Linked DNA regions of Homo sapiens. The protein of the gene in region 1 purifies or fractionates together with the protein of each later gene. This does not show direct contact. Each region holds a gene or a part of one and is shown in the gene's direction. Other genes may lie near its edges. The genes, in order: SLC35A2 and PRSS2.

Region 1 (3,911 bases):
TGTTATCCCAAGTGCTCTTATTCTGGTGAGAAGAACCTTACTTCCATAATTTGGGAAGGAATGGAAGATGGACACCACCGGACACCACCAGACACTAGGATGGGATGGATGGTTTTTTGGGGGATGGGCTAGGGGAAATAAGGCTTGCTGTTTGTTCTCCTGGGGCGCTCCCTCCAACTTTTGCAGATTCTTGCAACCTCCTCCTGAGCCGGGATTGTCCAATTACTAAAATGTAAATAATCACGTATTGTGGGGAGGGGAGTTCCAAGTGTGCCCTCCTCTCTTCTCCTGCCTGGATTATTTAAAAAGCCATGTGTGGAAACCCACTATTTAATAAAAGTAATAGAATCAGAAGCGGCTGGCCATTTGTAGGTGTGAGGCTTTTATGGAGCATCTACTGTGCACTGAGACAGACTGTCCCTCTGCTTTGTCCTCAGGAAGCCACAGTCTTATGTTGCCATCCTAAAGAGCTTTAAGGATTCTTGAAGCTGCACCACACACACACAAAAAAATCTTGATTCCCCTGCCCCTGATCTTATGCAGTGCCCAGTATGTGCAGAAGGGTTCTCTGTTGGAGATACTGTGCATATTGAAGGTGTTTAGGGCACATCCCCAATCAAGATGGCTATCTCAGAAGCAGAAAAACTACCTTCCCTGGCACCCCAGGGGAATGAAGAAGCCCTTTCCCCTGTTGCAGAAGAAAAGCCCTGTCAGGGTACTGGCCAGGGCGGGGCTGGGGTTGGGCGCTGACTGGAATCTGTCCAGGGTGTAGTCACCTGTTTTGCTCTTTATCTTTAGCCTCTTCCCCCATCTTTACCCTTACATACCCATCCCTCTAATTTCTCCTTCAACACTTGACTTACCTGGCCTACCCTATTCCATGTTGGTTTCACTTGTTCCGACCTGAGTTGTTCCCTCTCTTGCCCTGCTTATTTGTCTCGGTTCAGTATAAACTCCGCCTTCCGGGTTCCAGCGGTTCTCCTGCCTCAGCCTCCAGAGTAGCTGGGTACAGGTGCATACCACTAAGCCCGGGTAATTTTTTTTTTTTATTTGAGACGGGGTTTTGTCGTTTTGCCCAGGCTGGAACTCCTGAGCTCAGGTGATCGCCCGGCTCAGCCTCCCAAAGTGCTGGGATTACAGGCGTGAGCCACCGCCTCTGGCCCGGACTCTTGCCCTGCTTCCAAATGCTAGCTAACCTGTGAGCCTTTCGCCTGTCCCCTTTGCCATCCTCAGTGGTGACTCACTTGTCTTCCCTTATGTGCGTCAACTTTCCTTTGCATTTTCACTTGTTTATCCTCACCTGCTCTGCTTTTATCTGCTAGCTTAACATTCCTGACTCGCACCTGATGCCAGTACGCCCTCACCCCGACCCCGCCAGGTCAAAGTTTCTTCGTCCCCAGATTCCCGTGTGCTCTCCAGGGGGCGAGGCCTCTCTGGAAGACGGGAAAGCGGAATTTCAGTCCAACCATGAAGCACCTGGTAGTTTCTGATACGGAAAGGGCGGCGCCTTATGGAGAAGCTGCCAATAAAGAGCCGAGATGAAAGGGGTGGCTGAACCAATGAGTCTAGGAGACAAGATCGGGGGATGATCTGGAAAGCGCGATCAGTGAAGCGGACGAACGGCAGGATAAGGCGGGTCTAGTGACAGGAATGGGCCGATGAAGCTCTGTAGGGATGGTGGGTAGGCCGATCGGGCCGTGTCCCCGGCCTCCCGATCCGACGGAATTTGGAAATCCCGGGGCTATTCATACATTGAGCTTTTAGGAGCGGAGGAGAAAAGCCACCACCCTGACGATCCCGGCTCTCGCTCCACCTTCACTCAGGTGGCCCGGCAGCGGAAGTGACGAACGCGGAAGTGGTTTTTCTGTTGCCGAGGGGACGGGCCGGGCAGATGCCAACATGGCAGCGGTTGGGGCTGGTGGTTCCACCGCGGCGCCCGGGCCAGGGGCGGTTTCCGCGGGTGCATTGGAGCCGGGGACCGCCAGTGCGGGTGAGACAGTCTGCCCGAGCAGTCGCATGGGAGGCGGAGGTCGGGATCGCTGGGAGTCGGGAATGTTCCTCACTAAAGTGAGAGGGAGCATCCCGTGTGGACCGACGTGTGTGTGTGTGTGTGTGTGCACATTGTCAGTGTGTTGGGGGCGGGGAAGAGAACATTCTGAGAGTGATTGTGGGATCCTTCCGCATATGGAGAGTAGAGACCATTGTGAGTGTGGTGGGTAATTCTTTTTGGGAAGGCTAAGGCCACCGAAACCATTCTGAATATGTGGAGTCCTTCCGTGTGGAAGAGACCATTCTGCGGGTGTGGGAGTTCCTCACTGAAGAAGGGGGAGACTATTCTGAGGGTGGTGGTTCCTTCCTTATAAAGGGACAGAGACTATTGTGAGTTAGGGTGGGGCGAGTCCTTCTTTATGTGACTAGAGAGGGTCCATTTTGAGGATGGGGGTGTCTTTCATTATGTGCGGAGGAGACCGTTCTGGGGGCTCCCTCCTAATGGAGGTAGAGTTCATTGTACATTCGGGTGGGAGGGCTCATCGTTATATGGTGGAGAAAGAACGTTCTGAGAGTGCCGGGTCCTTCCTTATAGCAGAGAGAGCTCATTGTGAGTGTGGGTAGAGCAAGGAAAAATTCATTAGCTAGAGGGTCCGTGTGCGGTGGTGGGAGGGCAGACCATGTGGAGTGCAGGGAAGTATTTCCTCATCTGGTTGAGGGAGCCAGACCTTTCTTGGTGGGATAACCATTCCTGATACAGGATTCAGTCCCTGGGAGCATGTGGGAATCATTTCTTGTATTTAGTAGACTATTCTGGTTCGAGAGGAACCAGTTGTCACAGGAGTGAGGGGTTGGAGAGACCATTCTGGGTATGAGGAGGATCATTCCATATGGGATGTAGGCCATTCTCAGTGTGAGGGAATCGAATCATTTCTTAGATAGGAGAAAGACCGTTCTTAGGGGGTGAACATACCTCATACAGTGGCCTCATTCCCTGCATTGATGTGTTATTCTTTACATGAGACAGTCCCTCATTAAACAGGAGCATCATTTCATATAAATTCTCAGTTTGCTAATCCATAAATGGGAATCCTCGCAGTTCTTTTGGAGATGACAGTGATATGAGTCTATTGAGGTAATCCATAGAAATCCCTTAACCCAGTGATAGGCATACAGTAAACACTCAATAAACGTGGAGAATGTAGTTGTCGGTATTCTTTCTGGGGAAGAGTTGCTTCTCACTTGGGAGGAAGCCGAGGCGCGTGGCCAGGGTTTGCCTCAGCCATTACCTGACACCTCAGTAAGGATTCCAGGTATGGACTGGGACAGGGTGGGGCCCATTTCTCCCTTCTGGCTCTTCCTGCTCATGGCTGAGGCAGTAAGCCGGTAGGAGTCAGACCCTTATTGGGTGAGGGCAGGCAGGCTGAGGGAGCAAGTAGCCATGGCTAGGAGGGTCCTGGGTGAGAAAGAAAGGGGGTGGGTGGTGGTGTGGCTATGCCCCAGCGGCTTCTGACCCCGTCCTTCCCCCTTGCCCCTTCCGTTCCCCACAGCTCACAGGCGCCTGAAGTACATATCCCTAGCTGTGCTGGTGGTCCAGAATGCCTCCCTCATCCTCAGCATCCGCTACGCCCGCACGTTGCCAGGGGACCGCTTCTTTGCCACCACTGCTGTGGTCATGGCGGAAGTGCTCAAAGGTCTCACCTGCCTGCTGCTGCTCTTCGCACAGAAGAGGGGTACGAACCAGGGATGGGGCTGCACTGGGGTCGGTGGGTGAGACTCCACATGTATGTGTGTGTGTTCACACAGATGGTTTGCTTCAGGAGTGTCTCCAAATCTCAACCTGCCTGGAGCGCCACTCCAGCTATGCGTAGCGGCATCTTACACTTTTCTAGCCCTAACAGCCGGGTAGCCGGCCTGTGTGG
Region 2 (3,911 bases), on another chromosome or scaffold:
CTAAGGCAGGAGTTCTGTGAAGACCCCATGACAAGGGGACAAAATGAAATAACATGTTCAGCGACAACACAGCAAAACCCCATATTATCAATGCTCTAAAACCTAGCTACCTCAGGCTTGGCCAGTTATTCATGAGCAGAGAGGTGTGTCATCTACATGGCAGTCATGGCCTGGATGGGTCTGGAACTGTGGCAAGGTAAGGCTCTGAGAAAAGGTGCCAGGAGAAAGATGAATTCAATCATCTATTTCTGCCAGGAAGAAAAGCACCAGGAAGGAATCAGATGTACAGTTTGTCCTCTGGGGACCTCTGCCTTGATCCTCAATAAATCTCCTTTTAGATGCCACGTGCAGCAATTCCCACACTTCACAATGCTCTCCATGGCTTCTGTTGGCCTTATGGTCAGCTCTGCCAAGATCTGTATTCTTGGGCAAGACAGAATCCTTCTGAATCTCAGTCTCTTCCTCTATAAATGGAAATAATTTTGCTCCACACAAGTCACCATTAGCACGTTGGTGGGAAGTTAAACTGCGAAACTCAGCATAAACAAAGAGCAATGTACCACTGTTGCTTACGTGAAAACTCCCGTGAAGCAGTCAGGCACCATGCACCATCTAAGCATAGCAGCGTTAGGTATCAGCCTATTAGTGATTAGAGAGGGTACCGGGGAGAGAGGGGGCCTCAGAGCAGTGGGTCTCCTGGCTGTGGGGAAGCTGCCTCAGTGGCCATGCCAGGAGCTGAACCTGAAGGTACTCTGTGTGTCCTCTCAACACCATGGACCCTATTTTGGTATTTTTTTCCAGTTACCTCTGGTTTCCATTTGCTTCCTCCCTCTAGCCCCCTGGCCATGTCCGATTTCTCCAGCAAGTTTCTGAGCTTTTCTCATTTTGCTCACTGTCTCCAGAACATCCCTGCTTCTTTTACCTTTCAAAGAATTCAAACTTGAACTCTGCTCACTCCTGCCCATCACCAACATTAGCTCAGAGTTGATGAGAAGGGAAAGCACCCTCATAAGGAAGCCCCTCCTTTCCTTACATTATTAGACCTGAGCGCAGACAGCATCTCCATCTCCACACTGCTCTGGCCAGGTTATGCCTCAGTCAATTACACGACTGTATCTTAGTACCCTTGGTAGGGCTCAAATCAGGATATTCTCTAGAAAGATTCACTTAGTACTGAGCCAAGTATAATCTCACTACATCTAAAATAGAAAATTCTAGACCCACCCCTCCACATCTTTGTTATTGAACCCAATATGTCACCCATTTACCATGTGCTCAAATCCCTACCTACTGCTGATTCTCAGATCAAATCATAACCCAGATTTACCATGGTCCAAACTCTGACATGTGATCAGGGGCATGTCATTCTGGTTCAGGCTGTCAGCCCCAAGCAGGTGGGTCAGTTTCAATCACCCTGAGTGCAGGTTGCAAGGGCAACCATGAGGCTGCATAAAAAGAACCTATGACAGGATGCACATGAGAGACAAATGTCTTCACATTGAAGAAGGGGAGGAGTGCGCCATTGGTTTTCCATCCTCCAGATGCACTGAGTAAGCTCCTACCTAACCTGTGCCCCCTCCTTCTTCTCATCCCTATGCCGTGGTAGGAGGGAGAGCCATCTTCAAGCCCAGCATCCTATGGAATGCTGAGTCTCTCTTCTCCTTACCCCTTAATGTTGGAATTCTCATTCCCCAAAGCCTTGGATTTGACTTTCCCACTGAGTGACTGGAGAGAAGCATCTTCATATTCACAGGAACAAGCCTTAGTTAGATAAGACTTTGCCCCTCTCCTGGGAGCTCCAGGACACTAAAAAGCCAAGCTTGCTACCAACACTTGCCCTTCCTTAAGTACATTAAATATAACCCCAATAGTAAAATATATTCCTAAACAGCCAGGCCATTCTCCCTCCTTCTAACCCTCATCTCCTCGGCCTAAGAAAGCCCAGCTGTGTGATCTGGGGCTTGGCTTCCCCTGTCTTTCCCATATCAGCATCCTTCCAGGAAACAGCCGGTCTCCCTCTCTGCTCTCAGAAGGCAAGTTTCCTTATCACCTGTGAATCACAAACCCACAGAGTGGCCAAACATACTGATGCAAGACCATAGGAAGGGGAAAGCTGCAGGTGTGTTTGTGCTGGGAGGAGCAGTGACCCTCACCTCACAGACACCTCCTCTCCCCATCCTCGGGAGGTATAAAGACGGGTTCTCCACCAGCAATCAGGCACACTCTACCACCATGAATCTACTTCTGATCCTTACCTTTGTTGCAGCTGCTGGTGAGTTTCACGCCCTGCCTCAGGCCTCAACCAACCCTTCCCTGGCAGACACATGCCCTGCCATTCTTGCCACCTCTCCTCTTTTGACTGTGCTGTGATATTCTATTTCCTCCATCTGGCATTTCTTCTTCCCATCCTCCTTGGGCTCTTTTTAAGCCTCACTTGTTCCACCTTCTCCTTGATTTCACTCCCACCGCTGTTATTCATCCATATCCGAGCTGTGGTTGGAGAAGCTGGGAAGGGAGACCAGGTGGGGCTGGCCCATGAAATGAAGCAGTAGGCTTCAGGCTTGGCTCTGACAGCACCACAATAGCACCACTATAGCTGCTCTTAACCTCGAATGCACCTGGGGAGGTTGAAATTACTCATGCAAGACACTCAACTCTAGAAATTCTCACTTCAATTGTCTGGTGTGCAGCCTGTGTTCTGGGCTTTTAAGCTTCCCAGGTGATTTTTAACATTTCTAGGCATGCAGCCAAGGTTAAGAATTGCTGTTGTTTTGACCAATAATAACGTATACCTTTGTTCTGCAAAAGTGAGCCTGGGGCTTCCCTCAACTCTGCCCTCACTGGGCAGATTTGAGCTGAGGGGGAAACTGGTCATGGCCAAGTCGATGTCGCCAGGGGGTTTTCCTAGCTTGGCCAAAGTAGCCAGACAATCCGGGGCTTAAATAACCAGGTGGAGTACACAGGTGGTGAATAAAAGAGAGAAGACTTCAGTGCTTGAGACAGCCACATCCCAAATCCTATCCCACTGGAAGTATTGTGAGGATATTCCTTGCGTCCTCAGCCTGGTGACCCCAGGAGAGATCTGAACCCCCACAGGGTACCTAGCTACGTGCCCTGCAGACACAGAGACTTGGGAGCCACATCCAGTGATGATCACCAGGGCTGGCAGCGCTCCCCCCCTTGCCTAGCCTCACTGAGCTTGTTAAGGTTTTCTAATTAGCAGGAAGCAGCCACAGGCTGGGAGCGCCACCCCTAACATGCTACTGACTTGCCTTCTCCCTTCCCATCTCCACTCCAGTTGCTGCCCCCTTTGATGATGATGACAAGATCGTTGGGGGCTACATCTGTGAGGAGAATTCTGTCCCCTACCAGGTGTCCTTGAATTCTGGCTACCACTTCTGCGGTGGCTCCCTCATCAGCGAACAGTGGGTGGTGTCAGCAGGTCACTGCTACAAGTCGTAAGTGTGGGGCCCCTGACTGCAAAACTCCCAGCCAGGCTGCCTGGGAGAGCTTGGATTCAGCCCAGGGAAGTACTGAGGTTGGGTAGGACGGACGAGAGAGATGGTGGAAAAGAAAACTTGTTGGCAGCAGCTGACTCTCCAGAGCAGAGAGTGAACACAAGACAGGAAGCCCTCACACCCAGGCAAATCCATGAAACAGCAAGGGTTGTGGTCATAAAAGCAGGCAGGGATGATCTTGGGGTGGTGAGAGCTAGTGAGAAGAGCAGGCTAGTACTTTTGCTGGTTAGCTACACATTAAAGCCACCTAAGAATGAGTACTTAAAAATACTGATCCCTGTGTTCTATCCCAGGGCAATTAACTCAAAATTATCAGGAAGAGGGTGTGAATATCAGTGAGTATTTCACACTCTACCTCTGGTAACTGTAGAGTGTATAGACAGAGCTGAGAAC

What was found.
Region 2: the proteins of SLC35A2 (region 1) and PRSS2 purify together in Homo sapiens (affinity purification with mass spectrometry; 2 studies listed by BioGRID and IntAct, with this or other methods). This does not show direct contact.

The regions. Positions count from the first base shown.
Region 1 is NC_000023.11:48,909,625-48,913,535, reverse strand, and holds the start of SLC35A2 (UDP-galactose translocator), read left to right. Parts: upstream 1-1,889; 5' UTR 1,890-1,899; coding exon 1,900-1,990; coding exon of another isoform or gene 1,991-2,029; intron 2,030-3,218; coding exon of another isoform or gene 3,219-3,302; intron 3,303-3,539; coding exon 3,540-3,722; intron 3,723-3,911. UniProt on the Homo sapiens protein: Transports uridine diphosphate galactose (UDP-galactose) from the cytosol into the Golgi apparatus, functioning as an antiporter that exchanges UDP-galactose for UMP.
Region 2 is NC_000007.14:142,768,751-142,772,661, forward strand, and holds the start of PRSS2 (trypsin-2 isoform 2 preproprotein), read left to right. Parts: upstream 1-2,219; 5' UTR 2,220-2,232; coding exon 2,233-2,272; intron 2,273-3,298; coding exon 3,299-3,458; intron 3,459-3,811; coding exon of another isoform or gene 3,812-3,853; intron 3,854-3,911. UniProt on the Homo sapiens protein: In the ileum, may be involved in defensin processing, including DEFA5.